5 linked regions of the Homo sapiens genome follow. The protein of the gene in region 3 interacts with the protein of the main gene of each other region in a pairwise test. Each region holds a gene or a part of one and is shown on either strand. Other genes may lie near its edges.

Region 1 (3,533 bases), on a different chromosome or scaffold from region 3:
AACAATTGAAATCTGGATAACAAAACTAATTTTTCTTGCCACAGTTAGAGATATTAATACATATTTTATTTCTTGCCATACAGATAACCCTGAGGTTTCCAGTTTCTTGATTCATTGACTCCTTGGTTTCCCACTTAGTTTGCATGGTGTACCCTAGTCAAAAAGAAATATTTCAGAGTTCTGTTTATTAAATATTTACTCTACAAACAACTTTGAAACAGACTATACATTTTATTTGTAAATAACCACATTTTTACTAATAGCATTTGTATTTTCTTGGGTGCTGTTCAAATTCTCAAACTTTGGAATCAGATTTTTGTACTGCCACCCTCTTTTCTTGTTCCACATTGATTTTTGTATGTTCTTGATTTTTATTACAGCAACCGCTAACAACCTAGCTTTGTAAAGATATGACATCATCAAAAAGAATGTAATGTGACCTTATGTTGAAACAGTCAGATATTCTGAGCTGGTGGTTCACACAGTGTCGGACAGATGGTACCCCTGTAAAATGCTGTGCTGACTCAGAGTTCACTCTTTGGAAATACATAGATGGCCCAGCATAGGATTGTGTCTGATTTTTTTTTTCCCTGTATCCCCTTACAATATGTGGATGCATTTTCATCCTAAAGATGTGTTGATTAAAAATAAAGCAGAAGCATTTACTGTTAAAATTTATTTTTAGCCTTATTGGCTAAGCTCAATCATGTGAATTGTTGCAGAAAGCAGTTTTATTATGCCTGCTTTATTTTCTTTTACTGGAATCTAACAATTAGGTAAATAGTAACTTCTAAAATAAAGGTCCAAAAACAGCAGATATTTATTGTTTGTCTGTGGTACCTTGCTGTGTGCCAGGTGCATTTATATTTACCATTTATATACTACTTATATATTCTTATTTTATTTAAAAACACTTTCTCTAAAACTTAAAACAGCGATTCTGAAATTATGCCAACTCTACTTAACCTCCCTGTAGCTTAACCAGGTTTTCAACATGGGGATATTTCTTACTAGAAGACATTAAGGAAATGAAATATAGATATTCTCTATGAAACTAGTATTTATGACTTGATATAATTAAAGAGTAGCCTTACAGTTAATTTTAAGGTATGGTCTGATGGGAATGTAGATAAAACTATTTTCATAATTACCGCATGAAATACTTAAAACAAGTGGTAGTCATCTTACACAATAACATCTATATGCAAAATACCTTTTCTAATGCTGAATACAACCAATGTCATTAAAAGCAGTTGTAATGAAGTGGAAAGATCACTGAATTAGAGAATGAAAACTTTGATTCAGTTCCTAAATTGACAGCCTGTTAGCTGTGTGACATTGAGAGGTGACCCCCTTAACCTTGATGACCTTCTGTTTACTTATAAGTAAAATGCAGAAATAATGACATGTTTCTCAAAGTGTTTTTCATGGTAATGTAAGGACAGTATCAGATGTATGTTGTATGATACTACATACATGATGATGATGTATGCTTCTAGTGCATAGGAGCACGCTTGGGGCTGATCTTTAGCATCTGGTTCTGTGCCTGGTAGATAGTAAGTGCTCAGTAAATACTTGTTGGATTAATTATCATTTGACCCAGTAGTCTCACATTCAATCAAACTTTGAGGACCCAGAAAAATAATTCAAAGACTTGTGCCATCATAGCAAAATAATGCAAACATAGCTGAAATAATTGACAACAGGTTAGTATTATGAAAGATGTGCTCTCTCTTTAAAGAGAATAATTTTAATCATGTACTCTGTAAATTTTTTAGGAGGAGCAAAATAGAGGCAAGCCCAATTGGGAGCATCTAAATGAAGATTTACATGTACTAATCACTGTGGAAGATGCTCAGAACAGAGCAGAAATCAAATTGAAGAGAGCAGTTGAAGAAGTGAAGAAATTATTGGTACCTGCAGTAAGTAATAATTTCCAGACCTTAGATTTGGGCCTCGTCCTTTTTTGTCAGTTTATTTTAAATTATCGTAATGTTTATAAGGAATAGGTTATTGGTTGTTAGAAATTTTATTTAAGCATAAAATTAAAAACACCTGACTGATACTTCTAACATAATAAAAACATAAAGTTCGTATTTAGGGGTCCTTAGATAGACATTAAAAGGGGTTTTGGAGGGTGACGTCGCGTAAGAAATTATCCAGATGCTTTTGTGTTATCAGTTCTCCTTCCTTCCCGGTTTCTCTTTCCCCATCTCTTCCCCCATCTCTTCCCTCTGCCCCCCTTCCTTGGGTTGGCTCCTTATTGTTTCTTAACCCTTTAATATTTTTAGAAATAATAATTGTACTACTCCCAGAGTATAATTTTTTTTTTTTTAACGGGAAATGAAAAATAAATTACTGGTTTTCTGGGCCATTAATTTTTTTTTCTTATATTAGTAAAACTATATGGAAATGTGGACCCTAATTTGCTATTGGAAAAACTAGGGCTGGGTGCGGTGGCTCATGCCTGTAATCCCAGCACTTTGGGAGGCTGAGGCGGTTGGATCACCTGAGGTCAGGAGTTTGAGCCCAGCCTGGCCAACATGGTGAAACCCCATCTCTACTAAAAATACAAAAAATAAGTCGGGCGTGATGGCAGGCACCTGTAATCCCAGCTACTTGGGAGGCTGAGGCATGAGAATCGCCTGAGCCTGGGAGGCAGAGGTTGCAGTGAGCTGAGATTGCGCCACTATACTCCAGCCTGGGTGACAGAGTGAGACCCTGTCTCAAAAAAGAAAAGAAAAAACTAGGAATACTGTTAGTATTGTGTCCAACAAAAAGCATTGGCATTTACATAAATGAGTTATGGTTCCTGCTGCTTTTTATTTCCCAGATAGCCTATTCTTTATTACCCTGATAGTTTATTCAACAAGTAAACTCACAAATCATAAACATTTCCCATTAACTTGATGAAATTAATTCCTTGGAATAAAAGAGTTTTATGTAAATTCTGTTGGTAGATTTTATTTTTTTTAATGATCAGGTTAAATATAAACTAAAATCTATATTTGTGTACTATTAAACCATGGAATCTTTCTCATTTTCCTTAATTGTGTGGTATTGAAAAACTGTATAGAAAAGGAGATTTTCGAAAGTATACTGGGCAATTAGTGTCATGATCAGAAAAAGTTATTTAACATCGACTTTTACTGCTTTAATAACATTTTCTTTTCTGTAGCTTACTTTATTGTAAGAATACGGTATATAACATATAAAACATACAAAATATATGTTGATCAACTGTCAGGCTTCCAGACGACAGTGGGCTATTCGTCACATTTTGGGAGAGTTGAAAGTTACACAAGGATCTTTGATGCAGTCTGTGTCCCTGACAACCGAGCCCTCCCTTGTTGTTTGAGGATCAACTGGATATTGTTAGCGTCTTTTAAATTTTCTATTTACCCAGTCACCTGTAATCTCTTGTCTTGCTTACCATTTTTATTTCTAGTGTTTAGCATAGAGCCCAGCACATAGCAATAACATAGTAAATTGAAAAATAAATGATTGAATCTTGTCATAAGGTAAAATCAGTT
Region 2 (3,500 bases), on a different chromosome or scaffold from region 3:
ACTCGTGTAACTTTCTTTCCCTTTCTGTTAGAGTAACATTTAAAGCTTTTACCCCCTATAACGATTACCTTTGGTGAGCGGCTTTTTTTAATTGTTTCTTGATTTCTTTGGAGTCTTTCAATTAAGGGGATGGCAAAAGAGAATGTCTTTCCTGTTCCTGTCCGTGCTTGAGCTATTAAATCTTTTCCTTCATATACAGGACCAAAGGTCTTAACTTGAATAGGAAAGAGATATGTTACCCCTCGACCTGTAAAATGAGATTTAATTAAAATACTTCTTTACGACTAGCATTAGGAAAAAATATATTCATTTGAAAATGACAATCATAATTCTTCTATGTCTGCCTAAAGACATGCCACCTGGTGACACAGTTATTCCTACCACAAACAAGCATTACTAAAAAATTAGTCTAAACTTTTGACGAATGCATATAAATCTTAAAGCTAAAAACAAGGCAGAATATTGAAAAGGATGATGTAAAAGTAAGTGCAATTAAAGAAGAGCTACTTCTCTATGCTTTTTATGTTCTCCTTTTGGTCAGAAAAGGCACAGGAGTTTTACAAAATCTAGTGATAGATTTTTAATTGCATATCCATTAAAACTGCAAACCTTTGGGCCAGCCGTGGTGGCTCACGCCTGTAATCCCAGCACTTTGGTAACCCAACTGGAACAGATCAGGAGGTCAGGAGTTTGAGACCAGCCTGACCAACACAGTGAAACTGCGTCTCTACTAAAAATATGAAACTTAGCCGGGCATGGTGGCACACGCCTATAATCCCAACTACTCAGCAGGCTGAGGTAGGAGAATCGCTTGAACCCAGGAGGCGGAGGTTGCAGTGAGCCAAGACTGCCCCACTGCACTCCAGCCTGGGCAACAGAGCGAGGCTCTGTCTCAAAACAACAACAATAACAACAACAACCAAACTGCATACCTTTCAGAAGCTTTATAGTCTCTTCAGAAATAGGAAAATTGGAGAAGGCTCCTTCTTTCTGTTCACGTGTTAAGGTCTGTAAAAATGAAATCAATGGCCTAAATAATTTATACTCAACTCTTCCTCATTTACTGTTTTTAATTTTTTACAGATTAACTTACAAGGAAAATTAGTGGAACACTTTTTTTTTTTTTTTGAAACAGGGTCCCACTCTGTTGCCCAGGTTGGAGTGCAGTGGCACCATCACAGCTCACTGTGGCCTCAACCTCCGGGCTCAAATCCTACCAACCTCAGCCTCCCAAGCAGCTAGGACCACAGGCGCATGCCACCATGCTCACTTAGTTTTTTATTTTTTGTAGAGACAGGGTCTCACCATGTTATCCAGGCAGATCTTAAACTCCTGGCCTCAAGAGATCCTCCTGGCCAGGTGCGGTGGCTCATGCCCGTAATCCCAGCACTTTGGGAGGCCAAGGCAGGTGGATCATGTGAGGTCAGGAGTTCAAGACCAGCCTGACCAACATGGAGAAACCCTGTCTCTACTAACAATACAAAATTAGCCAGGCATGGTGGCGCATGCCTGTAATCCCAGCTACTCGGGAGGCTGAGGCAGGATAATTGCTTGAACCCAGGAGGCAGAGGTTGTAGTGAGCCGAGATTGCACCATGGCACTCCAGCCGGGGCAACAAGAGCGAAACTCTGTCTCAAAAGAAGAACAAGAAAAAAAAAAAGATCCTCCTACCTTGGCCTCCAAACTGCTGGGATTACAAGCATAAGCCATTATGCCCAGCCAAAAAGGTTATTTATTCATCTAAATCATACAGATGTAGACAAAATTATAAAGATTAACACAAGCCTATAAACTAAGCTAAAAGAAAGTATATAATGAGGAATGTAAAGTTTTTCTGAAAATAAGTTAAAAATTTATTCTACAGCGTTTGAAAGCTTATTTAGGTTGCTAATACAAGAGAAAGTTACCGTAAGCTTGAAGATTTCTTTAACATATATACAAGTTACCATGAGATTATCATTTAACATTTATTGAAAACTTTGTATACTAATGTGCACATAGAACAAAAACAGTGTGTCTACCCAGTAAGCTTTATTGTTCATGTGTTTAAAGAAACACACACTAACAATTTTCAAACTTGGAATTAGATAAAAAATAATTTCAAATTCAAATGGCATGCCATTTAAACAAACTTCAATGCTGCTGTTACCTTTTTATGATAAAAAAAATTATAAAAATAATACACTGTCGGCCAGGCGTGGTGGCTCATGCCTGTAATTCCAGCATTTTGGGAGGCCAAGGTGGTAGGATCACTTAAGCCCAGGAGTTCAAGACTAGCCTGAGCAATACAGTGAGACCTTGTCTCTATAAAAAACAAACAAACAAACAAAAATAAACAATACACTGTCATTGTAGAAACTTTTGAAACTGGCAGAGCCCAGTGGTTTATGTCTGTAATCCCAGCACTTTGGGAGGCCAAGGTGGGTGGATTACTTGAGCCCAGGAGTTCAAGACCAGTCTGGGCAACATAGTGAATGAAACACCATTTCTCCCAAAAATACACAAATTAGCCAGGCATGGTGCTACACGCCTATAGTCCCAGCTACTCAGGAGGCTGAGGTGGGAGGATCACCTGAGCCCAGGGAGGATGAGGCTGCAGTGAGCCATGATCACACCACTGCACTCCATCCTAGGTGACAGAGTGAGACCCCATCTCAAAAAAAAAAAAAAAAAAAAAGGAAATTTTAAAAACTACAGAGGAAACAGAAACAAATTTAAAAATTATTTATAATCCACTCAGCTAAAGCCATATTTGAAACATACTCCTCCAGTCTTCACTCTATGCACATAAAATTTTTTAAATAGAAATAAAATCACACTGTATATACCATTTTATAATCTTTTTTTTTTTTTTTTTTTTTTTGAGATGGAGTTTCGCTCTTGTTGACCAGGCTGGAGTGCAATGGTGCAATCTCGGCTCACTGCAACCTCCACTTCCCAGGTTCAAGCGATTCTCCTGCCTCAGCCTCCCAAGTAGCTGGGATTACAGGCATGCGCCACCACACCCAACTAATTTTTTTGTATTTAGTAGAGACAGGTTTCACCATGTCGGTCAGGCTGGTCTTGGAACTCCTGATCTCAGGTGATCCACCTGCCTCAGCCTCCCAAAGTGCTGGGATTACAGGCGTGAGCCACTGCGCCCAGCCTATTTTTTTCTTTTAACAAGATACAATGACTACCTTTTCTATTGTACACCCTTTGGGATAGCTGTATTCTATTATACAGCTATAGTATGTTTTATTTAAACCAAATGTCTACTATCAGACATTTAGGATGTTTAAATATTTTCCTATTATCAACAATATTACTATGATAAGAGTACTTATTCATACAGCTCTGCACACCTCTTCATCATCTCCTTAGGATAAATTCCTTTAAGTAGAATTCCTGAACTCTCATGTGATCTAAACAAAATAATAAACTGTTAAACCTATTATAATACAGATTTTACCAGGCAAAATCCCACCAAAGTGAGAAGCAAGCCATACATTCCACTGCTA
Region 3 (3,533 bases):
CGTAACAAATAGCCGGGCACGGTGGCTCACTGTCATCCCACACTTTGGGAAGCCAAGGCAGGCAGATCACGAGGTCAGGAGTTTGAGACCGGCCCGGCCAGCGTGATGAAACGCCATCTCTACTAAAAATACAAAAACTAGCTGGGCGTGGTGGCGCCCGCCTGTAGTCCCAGCTACTTGGGTGGCTGAGGCAGGAGAATTGCTTGAACCTGGGAGGCGGAGGTTGCGGCGAGCCGAGATCGTACCATTGCAGTCCAACCTGGGCGACAGAGCGAGACTCGGTCTGCGGCGTGGGGGAACCTGTGAGCAGCAGGTCATGTGGTTTGCCACCACAGATAGGGCACAAGGTTCCGTGTGAGGCCCCTCAGTCAGGACGGCATCTGGGAGGGAGCCCCACGGAGGCTTCACGGCAACGCCAGCATGGAGGGAGCCGGCACTCACCTAGGGGGCTGTAGGATGAGGCTGCAGAGCCCAGTGTGCCCGGCTCTGAACGCAGGGGTGGCGGCTGCTGGGGAGGCGTCATGGCTGAGGAGCCCACCGGCCCTGGGAGGGGCTGGGACAGCGAACCGAGCGGCGAGGTGGACGCAGAGGATGGCGAGTGTAGCGATGGTGCTCTGGGCAGGGAGCCGGGGATGGCGACAGGTGCAGAGCCGGCCAGCGACCTGGGACCTGGCGGGGGCGGACCAGTCAGCGAAGGGAGTACCGCCAGGCCTCTGCCCAAACATCTGCCATGGGCGGCAGCCGTGGAAGACGGACCCTGCAGGTGGTGGTGGTGGGGATATGGGGGGTGGGAATATAGGGGCCAGGCCAGCCACCACCATCTATGTGTTTGGAGCCACAGCGCCCCCGGTGGCCATGTCCAACACAGCTGGGCAAGCCATGGGCTCAAAGGGATTCCAACCAGAGGTGGGGAGACGGGGGTTTAACATGGGCCCCCCCCAAAGAGGCCGGACACCCACCAGGCCCTGCCGGCCAACTAAGCCATTGGCACGGTCCTCCCAGCACTTGTCCAGGCCCCCTGAAATGGTTTACTTTCTTTTAAAAGAAAGAAAAGATACACTTTTAGGCTGAATGAAAAGATGTTGTATACGATGTTAAGATACATTTGTATGGGGCCGGGCGCACTGGCTCACGCCTGTAATCCCAGCACTTTGGGAGGCCAAGGCGGGCAGATCACGGGGTCAGGAGATGGAGACCATCCTGGCTAACATGGTGAAACCCCGTCTCTATTAAAAATACAAAAAATTAGCTGGGCGTGGTGGCGGGCACCTGTAGTCCCAGCTACTCCGGAGGCTGAGGCAGGAGAATGGCGTGAACCCGGGAGGTGGAGCTTGCAGTGAGCGGAGATCGCGCCACTGCACTCCAGCCTGGGCGACAGAGCGAGGCTCTGTCTCAAAAAAAAAAAAAAAAAAAAAGATACATTTGTATGGATGTCAATCTTTTGTCTACAATGTGAATACATTTATCCTTCGGGGACCATCAAGACTTTCAGGAAAGGCCCCGCCTGTCTCTGCGCGGCCACTTTGCTGGGACAAAGGTCAACTGAAGAAGTGGGCAGGCCCGAGGCAGGAGAGATGCTGAGGAGTCCATGTGCAGGGGAGGGAAAGGGAGAGGCAGTCAGGGAGAGGAGGAGGAGGTACCGCCAGAAGGGGATCCTCCCGCTCCGAAAACCAGACACCGGGTCTTGCCCTGTGGTCCAGGCAGGAGTGCAGTGGTGCAACCTCAGCTCACTGCAGCCTTGACCTCCCCGGGCTCAAGCGATCCTCCGGCCACAGCACTTGGCTGTTCAGCGGCTGGAGGAGCAGGGCCCCAGGTCCTCCCCACCCTCACCTGCTGCTCCCAGGTCGTGGCCGTCTTGCTCTTCCAGGTCCTTCTCTAGGGATGCAATATTCACATTGCTAAGATGCAGGTCTAACGCAGAACCTGTCAACAGAGCCCCCCATCATCCACAGCCCACCCAGCGCTGCAGAGCTCAGGAAGCCTAGCTGAGGAGGACGACCGTCCCACCTGGGCTTAGAGTGAGACCAAGGGCAGAAGGCGTGGGAGTTGCTGGGGCAGCCAGGGAAGGACACCCCCAGCCCGTCCTCGCAGCCCCCCACAGGCAGTGTGAGGCTTGGCTGTTCCTCCGGCAAAACGAGCGTGCTCAGGTGGGACGCCCCGCACCACAGACCAGCAGCTGGGTCCTCGCCTCTGACACGCTGCTGCTGCCCCTCAGAGTTTAAATACCTAAGTGTGTGTTAGCATCTGTCCACGTGTGCACATTCGACTGTTTAAAAAACTTTCCAGGGCCGGGTGCGGTGGCTCACACCTGTAATCCCAGCACTTTGGGAGGCCGAGGTGGGCAGATCACAAGGTCAGGAGATCGAGACCATCCTGGCTAACACGGTGAAACCCCGTCTCAACCAAAAAAAAAAAAATACAAAAAATTAGCCAGGCGTGGTGGCGGGTGCCTGTAGTCCCAGCTACTCGGGAGGCTGAGGCGGAAGAATGGTGTGAACCCCAGAGGCGGAGCTTGCAGTGAGCCGAGATCGTGCCACTGCCCTCCAGCCTGGACGACAGAGCAAGATTCCATCTCAAAAAAAACAAAAACAAAAACAAAAAAAAAACTTTCTGTGAGGGTGATTTCAAGGAGCAGGTGTTCACGTGCAATTTCATGCCAAGCACCAAGACCTCAATTCCCAAGGCTCAAGACTGAGTGGGAAGGACCCGCCTCAGAGTGGCCTCACCCAGCCAGCCCTGCCTTCCAAGGCTGTCCCCACACATCCCTGCAGGCCGTGGGGCTGCCCTCCTGCACGGGCCCTTCCCTCCCAAGTCCCCACCCCCAACCCCGAATGGCAAGCAGGGACCCCACTGCCCCTTCCTAGAATTAGGAAGCCATCATGAGGAGGCTGAGCTCAGGCCACCAGCCCCTGAAGCCACAGCGTGTCTCAAACTCCCGCAGCCACTGCACAGAAGTTGGGTTGGGGGTGAGGGGTGACCAGAGGATCTGGGATCTGAGAGCCCACGTGCCACCTGGGGCAGACCAGAGGACCGCAGCGGCTGCAGGAGCTCTGGGATACACCCTGTGGGCCGGCGCCGCCTCCCCAGCCCAGCCCAGTGTTGTGGCCAACACCGCACAGAGACCTCAGCAGCGTGGGGCACACCGCACAGGGACTGCCGGCCTACACTGCACAGAGACCTCAGCAGCGTGGAGCACACCACACAGGGACTGCCGGCCAACACCGCACAGAGACCTCAGCAGCGTGGGGCACACCACACAGGGACTGCCGGCCAACACCGCACAGAGACCTCAGCAGCGTGGGGCACACCACACAGGGACTGCCGGCCAACACCGCAGAGACCTCAGCAGCGTGGAGCACACCACACAGGGACTGCCGGCCTACACCGCACAGAGACCTCAGCAGCATGGAACACACCACACAGGGACTGCCGGCCAACACCGCACAGAGACCTCAGCAGCATGGAACACACCGCACAGGGACTGCCGGCCAACACCGCACAGAGACCTCAGCAGCATGGAACACACCGCACAG
Region 4 (2,839 bases), on a different chromosome or scaffold from region 3:
GAGCTTTCCAAGGAATTATTTGTCCAGGGGCATATTATTCCTCCCACTACAAATTATTAAGATTGAATAGCTGACTGTTTAATAAAAGAACACCTCAGCACTCAATACAGCTAACTTGGTCCTGACACTCCTAAAACTTAAGTGGGTGGATGATCCAAATGAACTGACAGGCAGTTTTGTTTTGTTTTTGCAAGGACAGTTATAAAATAATATTAACACATTACTTAAGATCTCTAACTGTGAATGTGTCCTGGCTCAGACAGCATTTCGGATTCAGACGGCTACTCCTGCCGTACCCATTTCTCCTCTCAATATTGGGTTTACGCCTTCTTCCTTTTCATCTTTTCCTTCCTAACTCCTCTCCACAATGATCATTATTTTGTCTGACGCCTGCTTGAACATTATGTATAAGGCTTTACTATAGAATAGAAAGTCATCAGGAAAACATTTTAACAAAATAAGCAAGACAAAAACCCAAAGACTATACACAGTCCAGGACAGACCTTCAGAATCTGTTTATTTCACAATTGCTAGAGCACCATGTGAATTGGAATGCCTGCTTTGGCACTGCCATCTGAGCCAAAAGTGCCTTCTTTAAAATTCCCACTGTGGGGTTCAACTGGCAGGTGCTGTCATGGATCGAGGAAAGGGAGGAAACTTGGTCCTCACAGCAGTGATGTACGGTAGGGGGTGAGGGGCAGAGATGGAGCAAAGGAGCCAGCCACGTGGTCAGGAGGTTGGTTAATCACAGGGAAAATGAACAAATAAGCCAATGTATTGGAGACTCTGGAAGTCCAGTTTTTAAATATAGGGTGGAGAAGATACAATTGTGGAAAGGGAGAAGACTAGAATAAACTCTGTGGAGTAGATGTGAAATAGGTATCAGTGTGTACTTGTTTTTAATATATATATGGATGGATGAGGTAACAAGCATAGACGCATATATTTCCAAATTTGTCCACTGGGAGAACGCACAGTGGCAATGCTAGCACAGGGGCAATGAGCACAGCCTTTAGCATCCGGATCTTGGTTTTAAATACCATTCTCCACTAATATGAACCAGGACTCTTTGGAGAAATGGCTGATGTCAGGAGCGGGGTAGGGAAAATAGAAGACGAGCCTGGAACATCTTGTGGTGCCAGAAAGCAAGGAAGTGCTCAATGAACCATGGGGTATGTCCAAAGGACACAGGAGCTAGCTGGAAAGTGCTCTCGCTAGTCAAATCTTGGACAATGGGGGCATCAAAATAAATCATAACTTACAGATGATAAAACAGGGACCCATGTTCTATACTGATATAAATATTGAATAAATGGGGAAGAAGAGACCCCGTTTCTACAAAAACTTTAAAAATAATCTGGGTGTGGTGATGCATGCCTGTAGTCCCAGCTAACTCCAAAAGCTGAGGGGAAAATGGCATGAGCCCAGGAGTTTGAGGCTGCAGTGGGCTATGATCTCATCACTGCACTGTAGCCTGGGCAACAGAGCAAGACACTGTCTCAAAAGAAAAGAAAAGAAAAGAAAACTACCATTTGGCAATAACTGATCCAGACAAGGATCATCAATGGATGCTAAAAGTAAAGGGTAAAATTTTGAGAAATAGGATATTGAGAGTCTCAAAATAGCTACCCACAAAATACGTAATTCCTCATTAATTAATACCTGTAATAATCATTTCACTATGGATACATATACCAAAACATCATGCTGTACTTTTTAAGTTTATACCAAAAAACAAATACAAGTGGAGAAAATACTAACAGTGGAGAAATCTTGAAAACATCGTAACCAACTGTTAAAAATTAACATCACCAGTAATGGAAAAAATTGACATGATGTGCCTCCTGATACAATGCAGAGAAGAAGACAGCATCACCTCTCTGGTATTCCTGCCAAAAATTCACAACCTGAATCTAATCTTGAGGAAATATCAGACAAACCCAAAGTGCACATCATTCTACAAAGTACCTGGCCTGCATTCTTCAAAAATGTCAAGGTCACAAAAAAGGAAAAACCAAGGAACCGCTCCAGATTGAGGAAGACTAAAGGGAAAATGTAACTAAATGCGTGCTTCATCCTGATTGGACTGTGGACCAAAAAAGGAAAGGGTTATTGTAAGGATATTTTTGGAGTAAATGGCAACATTTGAATGGGGTTCGTGGATCAAATGGTAGAATTTTATCAATGCTGGTTTCCTGATTTTAAGTACTGTGGTTATGTAGGAGTGTCCTTGTTTTTAAAAAGTATACACTTAAGTATTTAGTACTAATGGGACATCACAATTGCAACTTAGTAACAAACAGTTCAAAAAATAATGTGAATACATAGCTAGAGAGTGGTATGGAAAATATGGCAAGATGTTAACAATAGAAGAATCTAGGGGAAGGATATACAGGATCTTTTGAACTATTCTACTTTTCTGTAAGTTTAAAATTATTTCAAAATAGTTAACAAATAAGACAAGTAGTATTTGAGCTGTTAGGAATTTGTCACACTGAGATTTTTGTTGTTTTTGAGACAGGGTCTCACTCTGTCACCCAGGCTGGAGTGCAGTGGCGCGATCATTAGCTCACTGAAGCCTCAATCTCAAGGGATCCTCCTGCCTCAGCCTCCTGAGTAACTGGGACTACAGGCATGAGCCACCACACCTGGCCAATTTTTCTGATTTTTAATAGAGATGAGTTCTCACTATGTTGCCCAGGTTGGTCTCAAACTCCTGAGCTCAAGCAATCCTCCTGCCTTTAGCCTCCCAAGGTGCTGGGATTACAGGTGTGAACCACTGTGCTGGGCCTACACTGATTTTTATACTATTAGAAAAATCTCTACTTAACGGTTTCAT
Region 5 (3,533 bases), on a different chromosome or scaffold from region 3:
GTCCACTGCGGAGATGAGCATCAGGCACAAGCCCCTCCTCACTCTCACCCAGCCCACACATGTGCACCTACACACACCAGCACCCACGTTCGCTGGAGACCCAGGGTGTTCTGCCCCCTTGCTACTCGAAGCGTTGCCCCGCATTAACAGACGCTCTGTATGCACATTATATTTTGAAATGTGCTGTGTAAAGGCTGCAAAGCCACACCTGCAGCAGTTTCAAGAACCTCCACACATCCATCGTGAAAACATTCAGTTAGCACCTGGCCCTCAAAAGTGCTCCATAAACAATTTGAGATCCAGGGCTGCCATGTAAGGTTGTGCAGGTTGCTCACTGCACAAAGGCATTCCCCACACATCACACCTGAGTAGATGAATGGGATCCCCCATTCCATTCTCCAATCCACATGCCCTGGCTCAGGGCTGTGTCTGACCAGGGGAGGGATGGACACCTTTGCCAACCCAGGCCTGCAAGTCTGAACTCACCCAGAGGGGGGCACCGTTTTCTAATCAGAGTGAAGACCAGCAGTGTGGACTAGTGGGGGGTCTCAACTGTATGTGGCTGCTCTCACCTGAGTTCTCATAATGGCCTTGATGGCTGCTTCAAACTCCTCTGAGTTGTTGTAGTCGACTGTCCACACGTGGGGCTTGCCGATGAAGTTCTCCGCGTAGGGATGCTGGGAGAACACCTGGCAAGGGTACAGAGATTGCAGATGCCCCCCGTGCCTGCCAGTGGGACAGGGACAAAGAAAGGTACCCCATACACTTGTCCTATCTCCTTTTGCCCCACATCTCAGTCTGCCTCTTCCAGGACCTGCAGGGGTCTCTGTCCCGGCCCCTCCTGATCGGGGACCAGGATGCTTTCCACTCACCTCTCTGGAGGTGGGCTTGCCTCGGAAGAACTCGTGGTTGAGGGAGCTGTGGGGCGGGCTGAAGCGGGACTGCAGGAAGATGCAACCATTGGCGATGGCCTCCAGGGGGGCGGGGCCCTCGTAGGGGAAGCCAAACCCGATGAAGAGCTGCAGAGTCAAGGGGCGCAGTGATCAGGGAGGGCTGGGCCGCCACAGCCCAGTAAGCACCAGGATGCCGGGGACAAGGTGAGGCTTCGGGATATTCACAGGAGGCAGCTGGGCCTGGAGCGATTATTTTTGCTCAGCCTGTTATGTGAGCTATAACAGGGCTGGAAAAGCCAGCCCAGAACATCTTGTGCCACGGGCAAGCACTTCCCCTCTCTGGGCCTCAGTTTCCCCATTTGTGAAATAAGGGGGTCTAATTAGGTATTATCAATGGTCTCTTCTTGCTCTATCAGGCTATGATTTATGATTGTGGAGGGAGGAAGAAAAGAACAAGGGTTTCAGGCCAAGAAAGCTGCAGGCCCGCACCTGCAAGAGACCTCCAGGAACCTCACTCACTCATCCCAAAAACATTTATTCAGCATCTAACTTGTGTGAGGCTATTTACAACAGCAAAGACATGGAACCAACGGAGGTGCCCATTAACGGTGGCTTGGATAAAGAAAGTATGGTACATAGACACCATAAGATACTACGCAGACATAAAAAAAAACAAAATCATGTCCTTTTCAGCAATATGGATACAGCAGGAGGCCAATATCCTAAGTGAATTAAAGCTGGAACAGAAACCAAATACCGCATATTCTCACTTATAAGTGGGAGCTGAACATTGGGTACTTATGGGCATAAAGATGGCAACAACAGACACCTGGGGACTCCCAGAGTGGGGAGGAGGAAGGGGGTAAAGACGGAAGAATTAACTACTGGGTACTATCCTCACTACCTGGGTGACAAGATCCTTCATATCACAAACCTCAGCATTATGCAATATACCCAGGTACCAAGCCTGCATATGTACCCCTTAAACCTAAAATAAAAGTTGAAAAAAAATTTTGAGACGGAGTCTTGCTCTGTCACCAGGCTGGAGTGCGGTGGCACCATCTCATCTCACTGCAACCTCTGCCTCCCGGGTTCAAGCAATTCCCCTGTCTCACCCTCCTGAGTAGCCAGGACTACAGGCGCCCGCCACCACACCCAGCTGATTTTTTGTTTGTTTGTTTGTTTGTATTTTAGTAGAGACAGGGTTTCACCATGTTGGCCAGGATGGTCTCGATATCCTAACCTCGTGATCCGCCCACCTCGGCCTCCCAAAGTGTTGGGATTACAGGTGTGAGCCACCGCACCTGGCCAAAATTATTATTTTTTAAGTAACTTGTGCTAGGAGTGCACAGGGCTGGCCTCAAAGGCACTTAATAAATGATTCTGAATCCAGGGCTGTTCTGTGAGGTTGTTCAGGTTATTCACTGCATGCAAGCATCTCCACTGCCCCCAACACACACACACACACACACACACACACACACACACACACACACACCCCCAAGATGCCTTGGGAAACAAGCTATGGTGAGATCAAGAGAGGGCCTGGGGCCAGGTGCAGTGGCTCACATCTGTAATCCCAGCACTTTGAGAGGCCGAGGTGGTAGGATCGCTTAAGCCCAGGAGATTGACACCAGCCTGGGCAATGTAGGAAGACACCATCTCTACAAAAAATTTAAAAATTAGCCAGGTGTGGTGGTGTATGCCAATAGTCCCAGCTACTCGGGAGGTGGAGGTGAGGGGACTGTGTGAGCCTAGGAATATAAGGTTGCAGTGGGCCCTGATTGCACCACTGCACTCCAGCGTGGGTGACAGAGCAAGACCCTGTCTCATAAAAAAGAGGGTGAGGGGGTGCCTAGAAGCTGGCTGGAGACTCTCCAGCCTCAGCTGATACTCCAGGGTCCAGTCAGGGTTTTGCCCACTGTGTCAACTGCTGCTCCAGCAGTACAGCTCAGGGACCCCTGAAGCAGTCACTCAGGACTAGTGGCTCAATGGCACTCTAGCCAGGACCCTTCTCTCCACCCACCCAACCACCCCCCAGCTCAGTGTCTCCAAAAGCTAGGCCTGACCCAGGAGTCCATTTGGCTGGACTGGTACTGCAAGGGGGAGGATGGGCAGTCCAACTCTACTTCCCCATCACTGAGCCACGGCTCTGCTGCTCTGCTGGCCCTGCCCAGGTCCCTTTCTCTATAGGACCTCTCCTGCCTGGTGGGCACCCACATCTCTGCCCCTGGGCTCTGGCCAGATGTGGGGCTCAGGGCAGCAGAGCATGCTGGGGTATGTCCATATGTGGAAGGGGCCTGAGTGGTGGTGGCAGGCATGGGTGGTGACCTCAGTGTCTGCAGCCGGCAAGTGTGAGAATGGTGCGGGGGATGGGAGCTCACTTTGGCCTTGCGCAGCAGCTGCTGAAACTCAGGCTGCGGTAAGAGGCCGTGGTTCTTCACAAAGGCTGGCACCTCGGGGGGCCGCTGGCTCTCGTAGTACACGGTGCCATGGATCTCCATGTATTTGTTCAGGATGCCCAGGAACTTCTCCTTCCCCTGGAAAAAGAAGAGGAGGAGATGGGAACCACATGCAAACCACAGAAGGCAAAGTCCATGGAGGAGATCCCTTTGGTCTGGAAGTCAGAAGATGTGGACC

What was found.
Region 1: the proteins of UNKL (region 3) and QKI interact in a two-hybrid assay, tested with the Homo sapiens proteins (one large-scale study listed by BioGRID).
Region 2: the proteins of UNKL (region 3) and DDX50 interact in a two-hybrid assay, tested with the Homo sapiens proteins (one large-scale study listed by BioGRID).
Region 4: the proteins of UNKL (region 3) and CPSF2 interact in a two-hybrid assay, tested with the Homo sapiens proteins (one large-scale study listed by BioGRID).
Region 5: the proteins of UNKL (region 3) and MGAT5B interact in a two-hybrid assay, tested with the Homo sapiens proteins (one large-scale study listed by BioGRID).

The regions. Positions count from the first base shown.
Region 1 is NC_000006.12:163,533,204-163,536,736, forward strand, and holds part of QKI (KH domain-containing RNA-binding protein QKI), read left to right. Parts: intron 1-1,778; coding exon 1,779-1,922; intron 1,923-3,533. UniProt on the Homo sapiens protein: RNA reader protein, which recognizes and binds specific RNAs, thereby regulating RNA metabolic processes, such as pre-mRNA splicing, circular RNA (circRNA) formation, mRNA export, mRNA stability and/or translation.
Region 2 is NC_000010.11:68,907,815-68,911,314, reverse strand, and holds part of DDX50 (ATP-dependent RNA helicase DDX50), read right to left. Parts: intron 3,405-3,500; exon of another isoform or gene 3,345-3,404; intron 1,009-3,344; coding exon 933-1,008; intron 248-932; coding exon 69-247; intron 1-68. UniProt on the Homo sapiens protein: ATP-dependent RNA helicase that may play a role in various aspects of RNA metabolism including pre-mRNA splicing or ribosomal RNA production.
Region 3 is NC_000016.10:1,369,689-1,373,221, forward strand, and holds part of UNKL (putative E3 ubiquitin-protein ligase UNKL), read right to left. Parts: intron 1,924-3,533; coding exon 1,831-1,923; intron 670-1,830; coding exon 442-669; exon of another isoform or gene 319-441; coding exon of another isoform or gene 246-318; intron 1-245. UniProt on the Homo sapiens protein: May participate in a protein complex showing an E3 ligase activity regulated by RAC1. Ubiquitination is directed towards itself and possibly other substrates, such as SMARCD2/BAF60b. Intrinsic E3 ligase activity has not been proven.
Region 4 is NC_000014.9:92,169,807-92,172,645, reverse strand, and holds the end of CPSF2 (cleavage and polyadenylation specificity factor subunit 2), read right to left. Parts: 3' UTR 501-2,839; downstream 1-500. UniProt on the Homo sapiens protein: Component of the cleavage and polyadenylation specificity factor (CPSF) complex that play a key role in pre-mRNA 3'-end formation, recognizing the AAUAAA signal sequence and interacting with poly(A) polymerase and other factors to bring about cleavage and poly(A) addition.
Region 5 is NC_000017.11:76,937,888-76,941,420, reverse strand, and holds part of MGAT5B (alpha-1,6-mannosylglycoprotein 6-beta-N-acetylglucosaminyltransferase B), read right to left. Parts: intron 3,434-3,533; coding exon 3,278-3,433; intron 1,020-3,277; coding exon 873-1,019; intron 690-872; coding exon 573-689; intron 1-572. UniProt on the Homo sapiens protein: Glycosyltransferase that acts on alpha-linked mannose of N-glycans and O-mannosyl glycans.